7 linked regions of the Homo sapiens genome follow. The protein of the gene in region 1 purifies or fractionates together with the protein of each later gene. This does not show direct contact. Each region holds a gene or a part of one and is shown in the gene's direction. Other genes may lie near its edges. The genes, in order: BACE2, FADS1, CTPS2, ABCD1, ZC3H4, PKP4 and CLGN.

The links.
Region 2: the proteins of BACE2 (region 1) and FADS1 purify together in Homo sapiens (affinity purification with mass spectrometry; one large-scale study listed by BioGRID and IntAct). This does not show direct contact.
Region 3: the proteins of BACE2 (region 1) and CTPS2 purify together in Homo sapiens (affinity purification with mass spectrometry; one large-scale study listed by BioGRID and IntAct). This does not show direct contact.
Region 4: the proteins of BACE2 (region 1) and ABCD1 purify together in Homo sapiens (affinity purification with mass spectrometry; one large-scale study listed by BioGRID and IntAct). This does not show direct contact.
Region 5: the proteins of BACE2 (region 1) and ZC3H4 purify together in Homo sapiens (affinity purification with mass spectrometry; one large-scale study listed by BioGRID and IntAct). This does not show direct contact.
Region 6: the proteins of BACE2 (region 1) and PKP4 purify together in Homo sapiens (affinity purification with mass spectrometry; one large-scale study listed by BioGRID and IntAct). This does not show direct contact.
Region 7: the proteins of BACE2 (region 1) and CLGN purify together in Homo sapiens (co-immunoprecipitation; one large-scale study listed by IntAct). This does not show direct contact.

The regions. Positions count from the first base shown.
Region 1 is NC_000021.9:41,272,660-41,276,159, forward strand, and holds part of BACE2 (beta-secretase 2 isoform A preproprotein), read left to right. Parts: intron 1-2,711; coding exon 2,712-2,965; 3' UTR 2,966-3,500. UniProt on the Homo sapiens protein: Responsible for the proteolytic processing of the amyloid precursor protein (APP).
Region 2 is NC_000011.10:61,800,004-61,803,503, reverse strand, and holds part of FADS1 (acyl-CoA (8-3)-desaturase), read left to right. Parts: intron 1-44; coding exon 45-141; intron 142-392; coding exon 393-472; intron 473-577; coding exon 578-703; intron 704-1,041; coding exon 1,042-1,093; 3' UTR 1,094-3,500.
Region 3 is NC_000023.11:16,706,170-16,709,669, reverse strand, and holds part of CTPS2 (CTP synthase 2), read left to right. Parts: intron 1-1,151; exon of another isoform or gene 1,152-1,251; intron 1,252-2,172; exon of another isoform or gene 2,173-2,261; intron 2,262-3,500. UniProt on the Homo sapiens protein: Catalyzes the ATP-dependent amination of UTP to CTP with either L-glutamine or ammonia as the source of nitrogen. Constitutes the rate-limiting enzyme in the synthesis of cytosine nucleotides.
Region 4 is NC_000023.11:153,731,356-153,734,855, forward strand, and holds part of ABCD1 (ATP-binding cassette sub-family D member 1), read left to right. Parts: intron 1-3,496; exon of another isoform or gene 3,497-3,500. UniProt on the Homo sapiens protein: ATP-dependent transporter of the ATP-binding cassette (ABC) family involved in the transport of very long chain fatty acid (VLCFA)-CoA from the cytosol to the peroxisome lumen.
Region 5 is NC_000019.10:47,066,232-47,068,776, reverse strand, and holds part of ZC3H4 (zinc finger CCCH domain-containing protein 4), read left to right. Parts: intron 1-907; coding exon 908-2,421; 3' UTR 2,422-2,545. UniProt on the Homo sapiens protein: RNA-binding protein that suppresses transcription of long non-coding RNAs (lncRNAs). LncRNAs are defined as transcripts more than 200 nucleotides that are not translated into protein.
Region 6 is NC_000002.12:158,676,952-158,679,440, forward strand, and holds part of PKP4 (plakophilin-4), read left to right. Parts: intron 1-1,629; coding exon 1,630-1,703; intron 1,704-2,294; exon of another isoform or gene 2,295-2,438; intron 2,439-2,489. UniProt on the Homo sapiens protein: Plays a role as a regulator of Rho activity during cytokinesis. May play a role in junctional plaques.
Region 7 is NC_000004.12:140,407,149-140,410,648, reverse strand, and holds part of CLGN (calmegin precursor), read left to right. Parts: intron 1-22; coding exon 23-96; intron 97-753; coding exon 754-812; intron 813-3,500. UniProt on the Homo sapiens protein: Functions during spermatogenesis as a chaperone for a range of client proteins that are important for sperm adhesion onto the egg zona pellucida and for subsequent penetration of the zona pellucida.

The DNA.
Region 1 (3,500 bases):
TCTCTATTTAACATGTTTAACATTTTCTCTGGCATCCTGAGTAGAATACAGTTATAATAAATATCTTGATATCCTGCCTGCTAATTCTATCATCTGTGCCATTTCTTACTAAGTTCCAATTGATTGATTTTGCTCCCTATTATGAACTGTGTTTTCCTGCTTCTTTGCATAATTAGTGCTGTAGAATCAATGTTTATGTCCTGCCAAAATTCTTATGTTGAAACCTATCGGGGGAACCTGCCCCCGATAATTCAACATTATTTCACGTAGGTTCTTTTCTATTTCCTTAAGTGTCAGCCGGTCTGAGAAATAAAGGGAAAGAGTACAAAAGAGAGAAATTTTAAAGCTGGGTGTCCAGGGAAGACATCACATGTCGGCAGGTTCGTGATGCCCCCTGAGCTGCAAAACCAGCAAGTTTTTATTAGTGATTTTCAAAGGGGAGGGAGTGTACGAATAGGGTGTGGGTCACAGAGATCACATACTTCACAAGGTAATAAAATATTACAAGGCAAATGGAGGCAGGGCAAGATCACAGGACCAGGGCGAAATCAAAATTGCTAATGAAGCTTTGGGCACGCATTGTCATTGATAACATCTTATCAGGAGACAGGGTTTGAGAGCAGACAACTGGTCTGACCAAAATTTATTAGGCGGAAATTTCCTTGTCCTGATAGGCCTGGGAGCGCTATGGGAGACCGGGGCTTATTTCATCCCTTATCGGCAACCGTAAAAGACAGACATTGCCAGAGCAGCCATTTCAGGGACCTACCCCTAGGAACACATTCTTTTTCTCAGGGCTGTTCCTGCTGAGAAAAATAATTCAGCGATATTTCTCCTATTTGCTTTTGAAAGAAGAGAAATATGGCTCTGTTCCGCCCGGCTCTCAGGCAGCCAGACCTAATGGTTATCTCCTTTGTTCCCTGAACATTGCTGTTAGCCTGTTCTTTTCTCAAGGTGCCCAGATTTCATATTGTTTAAACAATTTGTGCAGTTAACACAATCATCACAGGGTCCTGAGGTGGCATACATTCTCAGCTTAGGAAGATGATGGGATTAAGAGATTAAAGTAAAGACAGCATAGGAAATCACAAGAGTATTGATTGGGGAAGTGATAAATGTCCATGAAATCTTCACAATTTATGTTCAGAGATTGCAGTAAAGACAGGCGTAAGAAATTATAAAAGTACTAATTTAAGGAACTAATAAATGTCTGAAATCTTCACAATTTATGTTCTTCTGCCATGGCTTTGGCCAGTCCCTCCGTTCGGGGTCCCTGACTTCCCGCAACAGAAACCTAATCTCCAAGGTGATGATATTTGGAGTTGGGGCCTTTGGAAGGTGATTAGGTCACGAGGGCAGAGCTTTTCTTTGTAAATGGAATTACTGCCCATTATTAAAGACAGTCCAAGAGAGCTCCCTTGTCTCTTCCACCATGTAAAGACACAGCAAGAAGATCATTATCTACAAACCAGGAAATGGGAGTATAGATTGACTGCAGGGTGCATCCCTCTGTTCTCGGTGTTGGCAGGCTCTTGTTCATTGCCTTTCTTTTTCAGTGCACTTAGGAAAGCCATATTATGACAGAATCCACATTAGCAAGAAAATGCAGTCACTTTGCAAAGTAATCAAGCCTGTTTTCCTCTGATTTTAAAACCATTCTTTTCAGGTCATTATCGCATTGTTATTTTGACTTTTTCTTTCCTCAGTCAAAAAGGGTATTATTTGGCAGCTCTGAAGATCTTGAGGCTTTAGTTACAGAAAAATCAAATTCTTAGCAGTGTTATTTTCTGGTGCCAAAATATTCATTTCTGTGATTAAATATAGGAAAAATGGGTAATGAGGCCTATTTCTTTTCCGTATTGCAAGTAAAGCTTAAGATCCCATATTCCTGAAAGGGGCAGAGAAGCCTAGTGTAGGCAAAGGAAGTCTACAGATAATCCACAAACCGGCTTTAAGAAATCATCTCAACTTCCTTCTTGGTTTGAAGTTATTCAAGAGTCTCTAGCAGAAGTCACCGGGTGAATTTTAACTGTTTCTCTTTGTCACCAGTGATGTCATGAATTAGGTGTTGCATTCACTTACTGCTCCTGGCTGTTGATGAGACCTAGGATAAGAGTGGGGCAGGGAGGGTCTCTCAAGCCAGCCTGACCCCCGGAGGTCTCACAACCCACTAAGACTATGAGTCAGGTTGATATGAGGTCCCTATCTGTTGTAGAATCCATGGTAGGGAGTGAACTCAGGTTGACTCCACTGGGGAAAATTCCCCATGACGTAGGCAGGTCCAGCTGAGCTTTCTGCGGTAAATTCTCCTTCTCTTTCTCCTCTTTTTTCATCTCCACTGAGGAAGCACAACCCACACAGCTGTCATGACCAGGTGCTGACCTGCACTCTCACCTGTGTAGTACCGCAGTGTCGCTGGCATTCCATGAAGCACAGGGTGCTTCCATATGTGCCCTGCTGCAGTTCCCCTCCACACCTAGGCTCGGTACCCACACACCTTAAAACATGCCGTCGTTCCAGTTTGCAGGGACTGGACCCCCAAAGGCACGCTGAGCCGTGACCCCACTCAGTGCTTCCTGAGCTGTCTAAGCCACTGGGACCTCAGTGGACTTTAACTGTGGTTTAATAAACCAAGGGGTTCTGTCTGTGTCCAATGTGAGAGGTGGACCGCTCATTTCACAGCTGTGGATTTTCCCTTTCTGTCTCCCCAGAAATTGCAGGTGCTGCAGTGTCTGAAATTTCCGGGCCTTTCTCAACAGAGGATGTAGCCAGCAACTGTGTCCCCGCTCAGTCTTTGAGCGAGCCCATTTTGTGGATTGTGTCCTATGCGCTCATGAGCGTCTGTGGAGCCATCCTCCTTGTCTTAATCGTCCTGCTGCTGCTGCCGTTCCGGTGTCAGCGTCGCCCCCGTGACCCTGAGGTCGTCAATGATGAGTCCTCTCTGGTCAGACATCGCTGGAAATGAATAGCCAGGCCTGACCTCAAGCAACCATGAACTCAGCTATTAAGAAAATCACATTTCCAGGGCAGCAGCCGGGATCGATGGTGGCGCTTTCTCCTGTGCCCACCCGTCTTCAATCTCTGTTCTGCTCCCAGATGCCTTCTAGATTCACTGTCTTTTGATTCTTGATTTTCAAGCTTTCAAATCCTCCCTACTTCCAAGAAAAATAATTAAAAAAAAAACTTCATTCTAAACCAAAACAGAGTGGATTGGGCTGCAGGCTCTATGGGGTTCGTTATGCCAAAGTGTCTACATGTGCCACCAACATAAAACAAAACCAAGCCTTGGCTCGTTCTCTTCTCTCTTCAATCTCTGGAAAAATAAGTACATATAGTTGATAACCCCTCTTAGCTTACAGGAAGCTTTTTGTATTAATTGCCTTTGAGGTTATTTTCCGCCAGACCTCAACCTGGGTCAAAGTGGTACAGGAAGGCTTGCAGTATGATGGCAGGAGAATCAGCCTGGGGCCTGGGGATGTAACCAAGCTGTACCCTTGAGA
Region 2 (3,500 bases), on another chromosome or scaffold:
GGGCTCTGTGTGTACTGTTTTTGTCTGTGTAATACATCTAACAGGTTCCTGGAAAGCAACTGGTTTGTGTGGGTGACACAGATGAACCATATTCCCATGCACATTGATCATGACCGGAACATGGACTGGGTTTCCACCCAGGTAAGGGACAGTCACTCAGAAGACTGGAGCATAACACAACTATTGAAAAGGATGCGTAGGTGAAAACAGCAAAAACAAAAAGTCCCCCAAACAGCATTTTCTCATTAGCCTGAGGCTCTTGTTCTGCAACCATGTGAAGGGAGTGACCAAGACAGTCTCATGTCCCTTCCTCAGCCAGCTTTACCTGGAGAATGCTGGGCTGGCCTTTCCATCTGATATTCAACATGCTCTCCCCTGACCTTTTCCGCCAGCTCCAGGCCACATGCAATGTCCACAAGTCTGCCTTCAATGACTGGTTCAGTGGACACCTCAACTTCCAGATTGAGCACCAGTGAGTAGGGAGCCTGGGGAAGCAGGGTCCTGGGGAGGGTGTAAGTGTTGGGTACAGGTGGGAGCAGAGAAGCAGGAACCACTGACTCCCCCGTTCTCCCTAAAGTCTTTTTCCCACGATGCCTCGACACAATTACCACAAAGTGGCTCCCCTGGTGCAGTCCTTGTGTGCCAAGCATGGCATAGAGTACCAGTCCAAGCCCCTGCTGTCAGCCTTCGCCGACATCATCCAGTGAGTATCTGAGACCAGGAAGATGGCTAGTAGGGAGGGAAGAGGGCAGGGCAATGGAAATGATGACATGTAGGGTGGGGAGTGAACAGAAGGTGTTCCCAGTCGTGTGGGATGGAGTTCACCATGGCAAAGGCAGGATTCTTTATTGGACCTGTGGCCAGGTCAGGCCTTTGCCCTCATTGGGGTTCCCCTCAGTACCATGGCCCAAGCTAGCTTTCTCTAAAGTAGAGGGGAGGAAAACCTCCAGATGGAAGAAGGCCTTAACCTCACTGCTCCATCTCCGGTGGGTTCAACTCTGCTTGTCTCCCTCACTGTCTGCCCCCATTTTGTCCCTGCAGCTCACTAAAGGAGTCAGGGCAGCTCTGGCTAGATGCCTATCTTCACCAATAACAACAGCCACCCTGCCCAGTCTGGAAGAAGAGGAGGAAGACTCTGGAGCCAAGGCAGAGGGGAGCTTGAGGGACAATGCCACTATAGTTTAATACTCAGAGGGGGTTGGGTTTGGGGACATAAAGCCTCTGACTCAAACTCCTCCCTTTTATCTTCTAGCCACAGTTCTAAGACCCAAAGTGGGGGGTGGACACAGAAGTCCCTAGGAGGGAAGGAGCTGTTGGGGCAGGGGTGTAAATTATTTCCTTTTTCTAGTTTGGCACATGCAGGTAGTTGGTGAACAGAGAGAACCAGGAGGGTAACAGAAGAGGAGGGACCTACTGAACCCAGAGTCAGGAAGAGATTTAACACTAAAATTCCACTCATGCCGGGCGTGGTGGCACGCGCCTGTAATCCCAGCTACCCAGGAGGCTGAGGCAGGAGAATCGCTTGAACCGGGGAGGTGGAGGTTGCAGTGAGCTGAGATCACGCCATTGTACTCCAGCCTGGGCGACAGAGCAAGACTCCATTTCAAAAAAAAAAAAAAAATCCACTCATATAAAAGGTGAGCTCAGCTCACTGGTCCATTTCTCAGTGGCTTCTCCATCCTCATTTGCAAACCTCAGAGGGATAAGGCAGTTGAACCTGATGAGCAAGAATTATAACAGCAAGGAAACATTAATGCTTAGAATTCTGAGATCCAGCACAACTCAGTCTGTGGGAGCTCAGCTCGCTGCCCAGGGATAGGTATGACCTATGTCTGCCTTAGGCTGCTGGGAGATGCCATTCTCCAGTTTCAGAAGCAGGCAGGGCAAAGGTCAAGACTGTGGTATTGGGGTCTTTTGGCTCTGAAGGATCCTGGAACCACTGATTTTGGTTTATTCCCTCCAGGGTCTAAAGAGAACAAGAGGTGCTAGCTCTTACCAAAACAGATGGTAGAGAGAGTTGCTGGCTATTTAAAAAGCTCTTTCATCTTTTAATTCACCTCTTCTTTTCACCTCTTTAACCACTCCTCAGGAACAGAACACTTCTAGGACTGGGGGTCTTTTAGCTCCATAAGCAAGTGAGCAGATGGGACAAGTTAGTCTTTTCTCCCTAGAAACAAAGGGGATGCCCAGTGGTTTCCCTTTGCTTCCCAACCTAAAATTTCAAGTTTAATAAAATAGCAATTAGCAGAAGTGACCAAATTGGGAGATAATTATCAGTCATGAGGAAAGACACAGATTTCGGTCATAAAGAATGTAAGGGCTATAAGTAGAAACTTTCTATAACCTAAATGATGTTATAGAATTATTTTTGAGCAGGAGCAGAAAGATTAAATATGATCACTTCATACTTCTAAATCAGAAATAGGAAGATTAAAACCACAGAACAGTTTGTGATTTCTATTGCTGTAGCTAGGTATCTTACTCTGTCCACTCTTGTTCAAGTATCTAACTCTTCTGGAAACCAAATAGGCTTTAGAAGAGATTATCCTATATTCCTATCAGTATAATACTAAAATGTAACTTTTTAATCATCTGGTTTTTAAAAGATAAACAGTTTAGCCCATCTCTCCAGAGAGCAAACATAGGAATATGACTCAGGAGCCTCCTAGGGCTTATCATCAGCCCTCACACCCGCTTCCCCCTCCAACCCACAGCCTTTGCTTCCAGGTGGCAGGATTACTACTTTGCCTCTTCAGCAGCATCTACTCTAGGCATATTGATCATTTTAGACACTGGGAGAAGAGAACCTCAAACTAGGAGGAAAAGACAGAGCCTCCACTTAGTTTTGGGAGGGGATGGCAGACAGTCAAGGAGATGAGCGTCCTAAGGCATGTTGGGATAGGGTCAGATGCACCACCCATGGAGAGGTTTGTCAACACAAAGACATGGAAGGTTAGAGGTTTGTCAACAAAAAGACATGGAAGGTTAGGTTTGTCAACACAAAGACATGGAAGATTAGAGGTTTGTCAACACAAAGACACAGGAAGAATGGGCTGCAGAAGATTTAGATGTTTTCCATTTGGGCACATTTTACTTAGCTGGAGAACTAGGTTTAAAACAGCCTGGGTAGGAAAATTAGAAGCAAGCTGGATGCAGTGGCTCATGCCTGTAATCCCAACACTTTTGGGAGGTCCAGGCAGGAGGATCACTTGGGCCCAGGAGGTCAAGCCTGCAGCGAGCTGAGATCACACCACTGCACTCCAGCCTGGGGTGATAGAACAAGACCCTGTCTCAAAAAAAAAAAAAACAACAAAAACTTAGAATTGAGGAGTTGTACCTCCATTGGCTTCCTCACTCCAAAATAGGTGCTGATCCTTCCTATTCCTATTCTTTGCCACCTTTTGGGTGTGGTGTCACCAGCCTGTTTAGCCAAGTAGCTTTGGGCATAGGCTGCCCAATCTGAGCAAACACCAGTGAGGCTCTATTGAGCCAAGACCAAG
Region 3 (3,500 bases), on another chromosome or scaffold:
ACCATGTTGGCCAGGATGGTCTTGATTTCTTGACCTTGTGATCCGCCCGCCTTGGCCTCCCAAAGTGTTGGGATTACAGGCGTGAGCCATTGCACCCGGCCATAAGATGGAAATCTTAGTGGTGACAAATAAAATTTAGATCTTAGTTTAAAAAAACATAGTCAATAATATATTCAATTTTATAGTCTGCTCTCTTTTTCAGGTAACATAAGCATTTTCTTTCTTCCTTTTTTTTTTTTTTTGAGACACGGTTTTACTTTGTTGCCCAGGTTGGAGGGCACTGGCACAATCTTGGCTCACTGCAACCTCCACCTCCCAGGTTCAAGCAATTCTCGTGCCTCAGCCTCCTGAGTAGCCGGGATTACAGGTGCACGCCACCACACCTGGCTGATTTTTTGTATTTTAGTAGAGATGGGGTTTCCCCATGTTGCCCAGGCTGGTCTCGAACTCCTGAGCTCAGGCAATCCGCCCGTCTTGGCCTCCCAAAGTGCTGGGATTACAGGCGTGAGCCACCGTGCCCGGCCACATAAGCATTTTCTTTTTTTTTAACTTTTTTTTTTGAGACGAAGTCTCGCTCTTGTCCCCCAGGCTGGAGTGCAATGGTGCTATCTGGGTTCACTACAACCTCTGCCTCCCGGGTTCAAGCGATTCTCCTGCCTCAGCCTCCCAAGTAGCTGGGATTACAGGCGCCTGCCACCACGCCTGGCTAATTTTTGTATTTTTAGTAGAGACAGGGTTTCACCATGTTGGCCAGGCTGGTCTCGAACTCCTGACCTCAGGTGATCCGCCTGCCTCAGCCTCCCAAAGAAGCATTTTCTTATACAAAAATTTATTAGGCATAATGTGACTTGTACGAATGTATGCCAGTTTTCTTCACCATACCTCTACGGCATTTTTCCATTTCGGTAACTTTTACAAAGAGAGTCATTTGAACAGTATAACAGTGCCAGAATAAGGTATAATTAAAGCACAGTTTATTTGCCCCTTAATCCTGCAGGAAAGGTGAAGTCCAGTGGAACATAGACCTTGTCTTTTTGTTTATCTCCATATTCCTAGGACTTGGAAATATGTCAAGCATGTAATAGATGTTCAAATAAACATTATATATGTAATATATGTATATATATAATTTATTTATTTATTTATTTCAGACGGAGTCTCACTCTGTTGTCCAGACTGGAGTGCAATGGTGTGATCTTGGCTCTGGGTTTGGATTGACAATGTTTTAAGCTATAAACATAGGTCAGATAGGTGGGTGCCCTGGTGACTAGTGAAGATGTGCGATGGCATTGAATGTGATCAACTGTGTTGTGTAGAGAAAGGTAGGCCCAGGGACTTAGGGAGGCCATCTGGGATGGAACATGTATATTTTGAATAGCTTCAGTTTACTCAGCCTGACCATGGTCAGCTAGTTCAAATGGAATTCACAGCTCTGACGTGTGATAACTTTAGTTAAGATAGTTTGTTTTGAAAGGTAAGCAGAGGAAACCACAAAATCAGAATGGGCATTCCTTTGAGGAGGACAAATAAGAAGTGGGTAACTGAAATTGTTCCTACCCGAATGCATTTGTGCTGAATTTCCAAGTATGTAAAAAAATTGTGAAATTACAAATGAAAGTGAAATTTATAGTTATTACCTTTTGTTAGTTACTGTCTCTCTCTCTCTCTCTTTTTATTTTTTCTTTTTTGGTACCGAGTCTCACCCTATTGTCCAGGCTGGAATGCAGTGGTGTGATCTCAGCTCACTGCAACCTCCGCCTCCCGGCTTCAAGTGATTCTCCTGCCTCAGCCTCCCATGCAGCTCATGTAGCTGGGACCACAGGCACACGCCACCACGCCCGGCTACTTTTTATATTTTTAGTAGAGACATTGTTTCGCCACGCTGACCAGGATGGTCTTGAACTCCTGACCTCAGGTGATCCGCCCGCCTTGGCCTCCCAAAGTGCTGAGATTACAGGCATGAGCCACCGCACCTGGTCTCTCTTTTTATTTTTGAGACAGGATCTTGCTTTGTCACCCAGGCTGGAGTGCAGTGGCACAATCACTTGGCTAACTGCAGCCTTGACCTCCTGGGCTCAAGCAATCCTCCTGCCTCAGCCTCCCCAGTAGCTGGGACTACAGGTGTGTGCCACCACACCTGGCTAATGTTTTATTTTTCTTTTGTAGAGAGGGAGTCTCACTATGTTGACCAGGTTGGTGTCGAACTTCTGACCTCAAGAGATCCTCCCACCTCAGCCTTCCAAAGTGTTGGGATTACAGATGTGAGCCACCATGCCTGGCATTATTTTTCTTTTTCTGTAACTGTAATTTTATATTGTGGTCTTACTCAGTTGCCCATTTGCCTGCCATGAGTACACAAATAATACTGTTTATGGTCTACTTTCACATACATGGTGAAATTACAAGAGCAGAAGGCCCCTGTACACACTCAAGGGAAAAACAATAGTACTCAAAGTAAAGAAAATCAAGTTATTGGGCTTCCTATAAAACAAAAGGGTTTGAATCAGAAAGCAGCAGAAAAGTCAAATAAATTTTCCTTATGACTGTCAACTTAAAAATCACAAGATCTATAAATTTAGAAAGGAGACTTTCTTTTTTAAAACATTTTCTTTTCTTTTTTTTTTTTTGAGACAGAGTCTCACTCTGTTGCCCAGGCTGGAGTGCAGTGGCGTGATCTCAGCTCACTGCAACCTCCGCCTCCCAGGTTCAAGTGATTCTCCTGCCTCAGCCTCCCGAGTAGCTGGGATTACAGGCGCATACTACCATGCTCGGCTAATTTTTGTTTGTTTGTTTGTTTGTTTTTTTTTTGAGACAGAGTTTCGCTCTTGTCACCCAGACTGGAGTGCAATGGTGCGATCTCAGCTCACTGCAACCTCCTCCACCCAGGTTCAAGCAATTATCCTGCCTGAGCCTCCTGAGTACCTGGGATTACAAGTGCCCACAACCACGCCCGGCTAATTTTTGTATTTTTAGTAGAGATGGGATTTCACCATGTTCGCCAGGCTGGTCTTAAACTGCTGACCTCAGGTGATCCACCCGCCTTGGCCTCCCAAAGTGCTGGGATTACAGGTGTGAGCCACTATGCCCAGCCTAACTTTTGTATTTTTTAGTAGAGACAGGGTTTCATCATGTTGGCCAGGCTGGTCTCAAACTCCTGACCTCAGGTGTTCCGCCTGCCTCAGCCTTCCAAAGTGCTGGGATTACAGGCATGAGCCATTGCACCTGGCCAAAATTTTTCTTACCTTTCGAGTCGGAGTCTCACTCTGTTGCCCAGACCGGAGTGCAGTGGCACGATCTGGGCTCACTGCAACCTCTGCCTCCCAGGTTCAAGTGATTCTCGTGCTTCAGCCCCGCAAGTAGCTGGGATTACAGGTGCCTGCCACCACACCTGGCTAATTTTTTATTTTTAGTAGAGACAGGGTTTCACCATGTTGGCCAGGCTGGTCTCGAACTCCTGATCTTAAGTGATCTGCCTGCATTGGCTGCCCAAAGTGCTGGGA
Region 4 (3,500 bases), on another chromosome or scaffold:
ACAAATTGTCCTCCCTGAGTACCCTGTGTTTCTTTTTTTCTGGGTACTTTGATCACTTTCTTTCTTTTTGGCATTCTGCAGTTTCACTATGACATGTTTAGGTGTCAGTTTTTGTTGATTCTGCTTGAGACTTGTTATATGTCCTTTGAATATTTGAGTTTTTCAATCATTCTGGAAGATTCTCAGCTATTAGCTTTTCAGATATTGCCTGACTCTCATTCTTTTTTCCTGTTCTTCTAGAACTGGCAGCCAGTGCTGGACTTCTGACTCTCTTCGTTGTGTCTTTCGGTTTCTGTTTACTGTTTCCCATCTCACACTGTCTGTGCTGAATTCTGGGGATGCCCTGAGGCCTTCCTGTTTGCTCATTTTCCAGTTCACCAGTTTTCTCTTTGGCCATGTCTAATTGGAATTTTGTTCACATTTCAGTGGCTGTTTTGTAAGTTCTATTTCATTCTATTTCAAATAGGAATTTGAAAATGGACATTTCCTTTTTCAAGTAGAAATGTCAGGCTGTTTCTGTGTCTTATTTGCTCATCTTTTTGACTGCTCCTTTTATACTGTGTATCAGGTTAGTCATACTTACCCCACCGTCTCTATCTGATGGTTTGGTTAGCTTCAGTTCTTGGGAGTATCATTCGCCTGTCTTCTGTCTGCTGGTCTTCACTCATGGTGGATCATTTCCTTGTGGGTTTTGCAACAGAACTTCTATGGGGATTGGTGTGGCCTCAATGGAGGGTGTAAGTCCAAATGTCCTTCTGTTTTGGCCAAGCACTCCAGGGTAAGCAGTTGGAGGCCATTAGTTAGTGCGGAGGGGATGGTTCCTGAATTGAGAGGTGGTTTCATTTGAATTCATTTGAACTCCAGGCACATTGTTACAAATTTTCAGAGGAGGCTTTTTGTTCATTGGGCATAGAGCCCAGGCTAAGCAAGGAAAGCTTCCTGGTCTTTGCCCTGCCTGCCTCTGGGGCTATCAAAGGATCACCTGGCTGTCTGCTTCTCTTTGCTCCCAGAAGTTTCCCTTGCTTTCCGTCAAGCTTGGCTCTGCTCGAAATAGTGTCGTAGTTTACCCAGTTTGGTGGGAAGAGGGTTTTCGATTTATAAACAGAAGTCTGATTCTCTCCCTGTTCCTGTTTCCACCTCGGGGCTTCCATGCCCTCAACTGTCTGTGTCATCCTCTGGGTGACTCACCAAGAGGAAGGATCTAATTCGGGGACTGCACATCAAGGGCAGCCTTGATGCTGGCGTAGGTGCCCAGCCCAGTCAGCGCACCTAGCCCCGGGCACCGAGACAGCCCGCGAGACAGCACCTGCAGCCGCTTCGCTCCATGGCTGCCATTGGTCACATCGGGCTGCTCCCTGCCCTGAAGGCTTAGGACTTTTCTGAGCCTCTGCTGTGCCAGGCTTTGTGGGCTCCTGGCCCTGCTCTGGTGGTCCTCAGAGCCAGCAGCCTTTGAAGGCTGTGAAGCATTCCCTTTCCCCTGGCTTGATAGGCTCTGTCCTGTGGCCGTCTGTTTTTTTTTGGAGGGGGAGCTTTTGAGATGGAGTCTCACTCTGTCTCCCAGGCTGGAGTGCAGTGGCACGATCTTGGCTCACTGCAACCTCCATCTCCCGGGTTCAAGTGATTCTCCTGCCTCAGCCTCCCAAGTAGCTGGGACTACAGGTACACGCCACCATGCCTGGCTAATTTTTGTGTTTTTAGTAGAGATGGGGTTTCGCCATGTTGGTCAGGCTGGTCTTGAACTCCTGACCTCAAGTGATCCACCTGCCTCGGCCTCCCAAAGTGCTGGGATTATAGGTGTGAGCCACTGTGCCTGGTCCTGTGGCCTTCTTATTTCCCCAAATGCCAGGCCTGCTCTGTCTTGGGGCCTGTGCCAGGAGCACTCTTTCCTCTGCTGCCCCATGGCGCAGCCCCCCTAGGCAAGGCCCGGCCTGCCCACCGCCACCTTTCCTGTCTCCTTCCCTGCCCCACTGCTCTCCCAAGCACTCGACACCCCGTCAGTGGCGCTTTTCTCTCTCCCTGCCATGGACTGCAAGCTCCATGGGGTCAGGGATTTTTGTCTGTTTTGTCCCTGCTGTGTCCCCTGCATCGGGTGGCTAGTGAGGGCTCCAGGTGCTTCAAGGAGGTGGAGCGCACTGGGTGGGAAGGCAGGCTCTTACCGGTTGGAAGATTTAGATAAGCTTTGCTGGGCTGGTGTGCAAGGCAGGTGGGCTCAGGAGATGGGCAGGGCCTGTGGCTCCCACTCCAGCCCTGAGGCCTTGCTCTGTCCAGCTCTGGGGCCCTGGCCTTATTCACCCAAGGCTCCAAGAGAACCTGCAGAAGGCAGCTGGTTCTACGCCAGGATGCCCTGGGCACAAAGACTTGCAGACCCTTCCCTTTGTCCACAGCGACTGTCCAGCTCTCAGAACACCTGGGGAGGAGGGCTGTGTCCTTGAGAGCACCGTGGGAAGGAAGGTCCAAGGCCTTCGACCTTTAGGATTCACATCCCCGCCCCGCCAGCCCAATCTAGTTCCCTGGTTTCCCGGGCCAGGCCCCTTTCCACCCTGCATGGCCCTGAGCGGATACTGCGTTCCGTGTCTTCCCCCAGCCCCCAGCCAATGATCCCTGAGGCTTCCCCCTCAGGATCACACCCACCCCTGGATACAGTCCTCGGGTCCTTCACAGGACATTCCCACCACTTCAGCCACACCCCAGCACCCTCAGAGGCGGCCTTCGCCCTTGCTCCCCACCTCTGCTCCTGTGGGGAATCTAAGGATCAAGAAACTGAGAGTCAAGGCCATTGATGAGGGTCAGGGGTGCTGCCACGGGGCCTAGAGTGTGACAGAAAAGCAAATTAAGACAGGAGCAGCTCCTGGGAGAAGCAGACACCAAACAATACGGCTGCTGGCCCAGAGGTCAAAAACCATGGCCTAGAGGGGGCGGTCAGGAAGTGGGACATTAGGCCGGGCGTGGTGGCCCATGCCTGCAATCCCAGCATCTTTGGAGGCCAAGGCAAGTGGATCACCTGAGTTCAGGAGTTTGAGACCAGCCTGGCCAACATGGTGAGACTTCGTCTCTACTAAAAATACAAAAAAAATTCGCTGGGCTTGGTGGCGGGTGCCTGTAATCCCAGCTACTCGGGAGGCTGAGGCACAAGAATCCCTTGAACCTGGGGAGGCAGAGGTTGCAGTGAGCCAAGATCACACCACTGCACTCCAGCCTGGGCAACAGAGCAAGACTCCATCTCAAAAAAAAGAAAAGAAAAAAAAAAGAAAGTTGGCGTTTCAAAGCCAAACAGCTCTGGGCGTTGGATGACAAAGTTCAGATGTGCCCCAGGAGGGGCGACATCAGTGGTGCAGGACAGAGGGCCGGTGGAAGGAGCTGGCTGTACGTAGAAACAAAACCAGATGCCTACTGGTGCATTTAAAAATCAACGTTATTGAGACGTAATTAACATACTATACAATTCTTCCTTTTCCATGTACAGTTTAAATTCATTCACAGAGTTGTGCAGCCATCATCAC
Region 5 (2,545 bases), on another chromosome or scaffold:
CTCACAGCCCCTGTTTTCCTACCGTGTTCTCAAGGAGCCAACAAACAAGAGCTAGTCATTGAAATTAACCAGTAATAATCATAGTCACGAGCCACCGAGTCTCAGTTGCTGCATGGTTGACTTAGTGGTGTCCACTTTGGGGTAAAATGACAAGTGGTGTCTAGATCCTGAAGCCAGAGGCCACAGGTGGCCCTGACTGTAGCGCAGGAGCCAGTGGGACAGCAGGAGGAGGGGCCGCTCCCCTGATGGCCCAGGCTGTACTGGCCTAGGTTTTGCTTGAGCCCATGTCTGAGTCTGCCCAGCCGGCCCTGCCTCTTATCAGCTGGTGACTGCGGTTGGTCCACACCAGCCCCTCCCTGGGACATGGGGACATCACGAGCCGGTTTGGGGTCAAGTGTCTCTGAGCCCCAGGCCCAGCCAGAACTGAGTCAATGGTGTCTGCTACCAGGACCTCCAGAAAGAGGTGCCCACAGCTGGACTTGCCACAGTGGGGGCTGAACCAGCCCGGAGGTGGGCGGGAGGAAACAGCAGAGCTCTGGGTTAGGAGTCCTAGCCCGATCCTGGCCCTGACTCCAATGTAACGGCACTGTGCTTCTGTTTTCACATCTGTCAAATGGGCATGATAGTATCACTACCTCCTGGGGTGGTTGTGAGTTATTTAAATAAAACAAACTACTTAGTGCAGTGCCGCCACTGAGGAGAGCTGGGGAGCATGGCATAAACCGAGCGCCTTAGCTCTCTGGGTCTCCTCAGCCGCCCACTGTGGGGAGGGAGCCTTAGAGAGGAGGACCTGAGGTTCTGAGAGGCACAAGCAAAGGAGCTGCTCACGGTGGGCTGCTGTGGGATCCAAGAGGGCGGGTGGTGGATGCGCCCACTCACCCCTCCCTGCTCCTCTGTTCTTTCCCAGGTGACACCGGAAACTGGTACTCAAGTGATGAGGATGAGGGTGGAAGCAGTGTCACCTCCATCCTGAAGACCTTGAGGCAGCAGACGTCCAGCCGACCCCCGGCTTCAGTTGGGGAGCTGAGCAGCAGTGGGCTGGGGGACCCCCGCCTCCAGAAGGGACACCCCACAGGAAGCCGGCTGGCTGACCCTCGCCTCAGCCGGGACCCCAGACTCACCCGCCATGTGGAGGCTTCTGGCGGGTCTGGCCCAGGTGATTCGGGACCCTCCGATCCTCGGCTGGCTCGCGCCCTGCCCACCTCCAAGCCCGAAGGCAGCCTTCATTCCAGCCCTGTGGGCCCCAGCAGTTCCAAGGGGTCTGGGCCGCCCCCAACGGAGGAGGAGGAAGGGGAGCGGGCCCTGCGGGAGAAGGCCGTGAACATTCCCCTGGACCCACTCCCCGGGCACCCTCTGCGGGACCCACGGTCACAGCTGCAGCAGTTCAGCCACATCAAGAAGGACGTGACCCTGAGCAAGCCCAGCTTCGCCCGCACCGTGCTCTGGAATCCCGAGGACCTGATCCCCCTACCCATCCCCAAGCAGGACGCAGTGCCCCCCGTGCCCGCGGCCCTGCAATCCATGCCCACCCTGGACCCCCGGCTGCACCGCGCTGCCACGGCAGGGCCCCCCAACGCCCGGCAGCGCCCGGGCGCCTCCACGGATTCCAGCACACAGGGCGCCAACCTCCCCGACTTTGAACTTCTGTCTCGCATCCTCAAGACAGTCAATGCCACCGGCTCCTCGGCCGCCCCCGGTTCCAGCGACAAACCCAGTGACCCCCGGGTGCGGAAGGCCCCCACCGACCCTCGGCTGCAGAAACCCACAGACTCTACGGCCTCCTCCCGGGCTGCCAAGCCCGGCCCTGCTGAGGCGCCCTCTCCCACCGCCAGCCCGAGTGGGGATGCCTCCCCACCAGCCACCGCTCCCTACGACCCCCGCGTGCTGGCGGCCGGTGGACTGGGCCAGGGCGGAGGGGGCGGGCAGAGCAGTGTGCTGAGCGGTATCAGCCTCTACGACCCGAGGACTCCCAACGCGGGGGGCAAAGCCACAGAGCCGGCTGCTGACACGGGTGCCCAGCCCAAGGGTGCTGAGGGCAATGGCAAGAGCTCGGCCTCCAAGGCTAAGGAGCCCCCGTTCGTCCGCAAGTCTGCCCTGGAACAGCCAGAGACAGGGAAGGCCGGTGCTGATGGGGGCACCCCCACGGACAGATACAACAGCTACAACCGGCCCCGGCCCAAGGCTGCTGCAGCCCCCGCTGCCACCACCGCCACCCCACCCCCCGAGGGTGCCCCACCCCAGCCCGGGGTGCACAACCTGCCCGTGCCCACCCTCTTCGGGACGGTGAAGCAGACACCCAAGACGGGCTCAGGAAGCCCATTTGCTGGGAACAGTCCGGCCCGCGAGGGTGAGCAGGATGCGGCATCCCTGAAGGATGTTTTTAAAGGCTTCGACCCCACGGCCTCCCCCTTTTGCCAGTAGTGTCCAGCCAGAGCTGCGGCTCCAGCCACCCTTCCTAGGGTGGCATTCAGGGCAGCACCCAGGGTAGGGAACTTGGGGGCAAGGGGAGGCAGGCTGGGTGTTCCTTTTTTCTTTTCTTTTTCTT
Region 6 (2,489 bases), on another chromosome or scaffold:
TGCTTGTATTGAGACAGTCCCCCAGCAGCAAACCATGTTCCAGTCATTCCCTTTCCTACTTTGGGGATTGTTGCCTTTTCTGCTTGTTTAAAGTAAAACAAGCATGTACTTGTTTGTATGTATGTATGTATGTAGTTGTACGGTGGGCACAAATAAAAAGAGGGCTGTATCCAAATAAATCATTTCTGGCTGCTCACTGGCACAGTCCCTTTGCTCCGTCCCCTCCTGGCTCGAGCAGTCTCTGTGTTTTCCACATGCATCAGAACCGTCAGCCCAGTGTCACTTTGCAGGGGCCACATCTTCTAGACTGGCTCATCTCTTAAATTCAAACCAGAGAATGGAGATCAATTTCATTTACATTTTCATGGAGAAGAGTTTGAATAAATAGCAAAAGGTATAATGTGATTCTTCTCAACGTGATTATTTTTTAAGAATAACAAAAATAATGTTACATAGTGTTAATATTTTTATATCCTATTCAGAAAGCTGTGCATACAATTTATTTAAAGGATACCAGCCCAAAGGGTTACTAAGATTTCATACTGTTCCCATTCTCAACCGTCTGGCGATTATAACTACTTTAGATGTTCCAAATAAGTCAGTGTGAGCTACCCCACAAAAAGTACTCTTTTCTCAAACCTGTCTATTAAAAATAAATAAAAGCTGGTGGCAGCTTTACTCCTGCTGGGGGGGCAGTCTCCATTGTACTGTTGTCTTTGAAATTGTGATTTCACAGGACTATTTACTAATCGACTGTTGTTACTATGGCAATTAATAGCTCAGAAAATTGCAGATGCTACATTTCAACACCAAGCTCTGGGCAAAAGGAAATGCACATACCAACTGAAGTGCATGGTTGCTTCCGATTTGCAGCAGCCTGCTTTATCTTACAGATCACCTCTTTAGCATGCATGCCCTTCTGTATCTTCTTCGCTTGCTTCAATAAACTAATTTGCCTCAACTACGTTTCATTTTCCTCATTAAAAAAATAAAAATCTTTGCTAGCCTTAATAATAATGGAAGGGTAACATCATCAGGAGTCTACTATGGACTTTTGAAGACAATTATCTCATTATTACCAAGTTCCTTTTGTATTAAAACATACTTAAATATGCCAGGTACAAGACTGTGCCTCCATTGTTGCTCCTTCCTTGACCTGAGATTTTGAATCCCAGTTGTTTGTTTGGAAGGCATGGGGCTTGTTCGAATATTGTGTTTCGCTTCTCCTCTCTGACCCACTGCCGTAGCTCAGAGCCCTGGAAAAGGAGTGTTCCTCAGCTCAGGATCCCGTGCTGCTGTCCAAAGCCAGCTGGAGAAACCCTCCCACATGTGAGCAGAGCTTGAGCAGGAACCTTTGCGCATGGGCTCTGCACTGGCATTGCTTTTTGGGGAAACACACACAGCCTGTTTCTGCCATAGTTTTGCCATTAGCCCCCACCAGCCCTGAGGTAAGCAGCAGCCAGGCCAGATCCAGGGACCCTGAGCTGCTACCTCTCCCAGCCCGCATTGGCACTGGGGAAGACAGGCCCTGTCGGGGACAGTGCTAGCCCTAGTGCAGGGGAGACCACCCAGCCTAATGGACCAGAGTAATAAGCACTAGTTTTAATTTCATAAAATATTTTCTTACAGGCTCCAGCAAACCTTCACCAATTTACATCAGTTCCTATTCCTCACCAGCAAGAGAACAAAATAGACGGCTACAGGTGAATTTGCAATATCATTTTTACAGAAGGCTGATTAGCAGTTAACACAGTAAGGGGTCCACGTCGATTGACTTCCCAGAGCTGGGCCAACATGGCAGGGTCCTAGATGCTTTCCCTGGGGATCTTCACTCCTTGGAAACTCAACGTGTGGTTTAAGCAAAGCATTTCCACGGTAGCCTCACGTTCTTGAGTATCCACATCGGTACTGCTGAGACCACCGTGCCACTGATGGGGACAGCCGAGAAGTCTTTAGTTCATGTCTTTTGCCCAGCAGTGTCCTCTTCCCACTCTTTTTCTGTTAAGCTCTAAAATCTCTTCCAGCCTCTGAGTGAGGGAAGGTTGGTAAGCACACTTCATGCCCTCATCACATTGTTCTCTTTTGTGTATACCTCGTTCTCCATCTCGCCCCTCCCTGTCCAAGCTCCACAATTTAAAAACACTGAGTCCATCACCAGGTCTGTTTGTCTCAGTGGTCAAGGTGGACTCAGCCCCTGCCGGGATGGACCTCACTGTGGGAGAGTGGGACTGGCGGTTATAACACACCCAGGCTTTGCTTTCATGAAGGGCCTGCAGTCAGTCTCAGGTCCTTACCAGTGCCATGGCGAACTTGGACCATCTGGTCTCTCCTCTTCCCTTTCAATGACACAGAGCAGCTGGAGTTTCCTAAAACAAGACTGTATCCTGTCCTTCAGATAAGGATGTGTTCTAAGACCTCTCCTTCTCGTCATCTTTTCTCTGTAGGTGGAAGAAAAAGAACTTTCCAAGTTATTCATAATTTATGCTATG
Region 7 (3,500 bases), on another chromosome or scaffold:
ACTTGGAAAATCTCTTTTCTAGATTAAATATAAGACACCTCAACCTATAGGAGAAGTATATTTTGCAGAAACTTTTGATAGTGGAAGGTTGGCTGGGTGAGTATTCATTCAAGAGAATGTTTTCTTTGATTTATTAGCTTTTTTGAAGTTATTAGGTTTTGGCCTATGAAAATTATCTCTACTACAGATCTATAAAAAATTTTAAAGTAGTTTAATTGACAATGTAAATCAGTACTTAGTATATTTTTGTAATTGATAGAATGTTTAATTTGAATAGTTATTTATTCAAAGAAAATATACTAATTCCGAATGCAAAGATGAAATTTATAACATTTCTTTATTCTCTAGGACAGATTAACACTCTTAAGTTCAGATGACAAATATGAGTACTGCTCTACTCTAAATAATGGAAAAAACAAAAGTTAATATTAAATGATTATTATGTGTCAGATGTCCTTAAAAAAAGTAGATAATTACCATATTTAATCCCCATTTTACAGGTGGAGAAACCGAGGTTTCTTGTACCTTACCTGTGATCATACAGCTAGTAAATTATAGATTCCAAATTCGGTTTAACTCTAGCCCTTCAGGATTATGTGTAGGCATCCTTATTTAGCATCTAAGTATGAATTTATTGTTGAATGAAAAGTGACTGTATTGGGTGATCTTTTATTGTGTTTCTGTATGCCTTATATCTATAAATTGCTGCTTTTATTGTCAATGACATATATGTATGTTCAACTTTATTTACAGATGGGTCTTATCAAAAGCAAAGAAAGATGACATGGATGAGGAAATTTCAATATACGATGGTAAAATATTTATTTAAGTATTAGATATAACCAGTATGGCCTGGAGTTCACTAAACTTTGAGATTAGATTTTTGTTAAATTGTGTTGGCTGGAGTCCCCCACCCTGCCTCACAATAAAATGTTCAGTCTTTTATCTTGTCCCTCTTCAATATTTCTGAAAAACCCTTCGCTATTTCTGAAAATCTCACTCTTAAGCCAGTTAATCTAGTTTTCTAACTGAACAGTTGAATTTTCACTCTACTGCTGTTAGTCTTTTGCATTTCCTGAAGCAGTATTTCCCAGGCTACTGCTGTCTCTATGGTTTCATCTCAAGCATAGACACACCTTGATCTATAAATTAAATAAATTATAATTTATGGTAAGATTCTCCTAGCAAGTAAAAAGCAGAAGATAGCTAATGAGAGCTACAAGATATGTGGCTGCTTCTGGAATCCTCATCTCCAGGTCTATATCCATTATCATAGGGTGTCTAATAGGATTATCTTCAACCTTAGCTCTAGAAAGAAATGTCCTATAGGCAGGGGTCATATTGTCTTCCCTAATAGGACTACCCTAGAGTATGACCAAATATTTTCTTCTTTGTGGTCTAAAAACCAGCCTCCTTGATTGTTATATGCTGAAGCAAGATCAGCCTCTTCTCACAGTGACTGATAGTGGTAATTTCTTCTTTCTCAGAGGACCTCATACTCATAAACATGTGGCCCTGCACTCAGACTCTGATAAGCAGTTACATCACAACAGCAAAACAGATAGCATGTTGGATGTCAGCTGTCTGCTTCCTTTTCATAGTTTCTGTTTAGTGTAAGATAAAGATCATACCTGCATGTCTTCCTTTGCATGGTGTTCGCCATCCCAGCAAATCCCCTGTGTATATATATACACATATATACATATATACACAAATATATATACATATACACATATATGTGTGTATATATATGTGTGTGTGTGTATATATATATATATATATATATATGCTTATCAACTCCAAAAAGGACACCACCATATGCACAGAAAAAGCAGTAGTGGGATTTCTGGATCAAATAGTAGATCTACTTTCAGTTTTTTAATAAACCTCCATGCTGTTTTCCATAGAGGCTGTATTAATTTACATTGCACCAGCAGTGTATAAATGTTCCCTTTTTACCACATCCATGCCAATTGTTTTTTGACTTTTTAATAATGGCCATTCTTACAGGGGTAACGTAGTATCTCATTGTGGTTTTAATTTGCATTTCCTTGATGATTAGTGATGTTGAGCATTTTCTAAACATGTTCGTTGGCCATTTCTATATCTTCTTTTGAGAAATGTCTATTTATGTCATTTGCCTACTTTCTGATGGGATTAATTTTTTTCTTGCTGATTTGTTTGAGTCTCATGATTCTGGATACTAGTCCTTTGTCAGATTCATAGGTTATTAATATTTTCTCCCACACTGTGGGTTATCTGTTTACTCTGATGATTATTTCTTTCGCTGTGCAGAAGCTTTTTAGTTTAATTAGGTCCCATTTATTTATTTTTGTTTTTGTTGCATTTGCTTTTGGGTTCTTGGTCATGAATTCTTTGCCTAAGCCAATGTCTAGAAGAGTTTTTCTGGTGTTATCTTCTAGAATTTTCATGGTTTCAGATCTTAGGTTTAAGTCTTTAATCCATCTTGAGTTGATTTTTGTATAAGGTGACAAGTAAGGATCCAGTTTCATTCTTCTATATGTGGCTTGCCAGTTTTCTCAGTACCATTTATTAAATAGGGTGTCCTTTCCCTAATTTATATTTTTGTATGCTTGGTCAAAGATCAGTTAGTTGTAAGTATTTTGCTTTATTTCTGGTTCTTTATTCTGTTCCAGTGGTCTATGTGTCTACCTGAGACCATTACCATGCTGTTTTGATAGTATGGCCCTGTATAATTTGAAGTCAGGTAATGTGATGTCTCCAGATTTGTTCTTTTTGCTTAGGATTACTTTGGCTATTCAGGCTCTTTTTTGGTTCCATATGAACTTTTGGATTTTTTTTCCTAATTCTGTGAAAAATGTTTTTGGTATTTTCACAATAATCACACTGAATCTGTAGATGGCTTTGGGCGCTATGATCATTTTCATGATATTGATTCTTCCAATCCATGAGCATGGGATGTGTTTCCATTTGTTTGTGTCATCTATGATTTTTTTCAGCAGTGTTTTGTAGTCCTCCTTGTATAGATAGATCTTTCACCTCTGTTAAGAATATTCCTAGGGATTTTTTTTTTTTTTTTTGCAGCCATTGTAAAAGTCATTGAGTTCTTGATTTGATTTTCAGTTTGGTCGTTGTTGCTATGTAGCAGTACTACTGATTTGTGTACATTGATTTTGTAAGCTGAGACTTTTATTGAATTGATTTTTCAAGTCTAGTAGTCTATTGGATGAGTCTTTTGGGTTTTCTAGGTATGCAATCATATCATTAGCAAACAGTGATAGCTTGACTTCCTCGTTTCCAATTTGTATGTCCTTTATTTCTTTCTCTTGCCAGATTGCGCTGGCTAGGACTTCCAGATAAAGTTGTTACTTCTTAAAATAAGACCTTTATAGGGGGCGAGAGGCAAACTACAAGTTAGTGATAATACAATTCACCATCAATGTGAGAGAAAGAAAACCAAGTACATTAATCTTTTTCAAAAAAATATAATATGACCAAATCAGGGGGAGAAAGAAAAG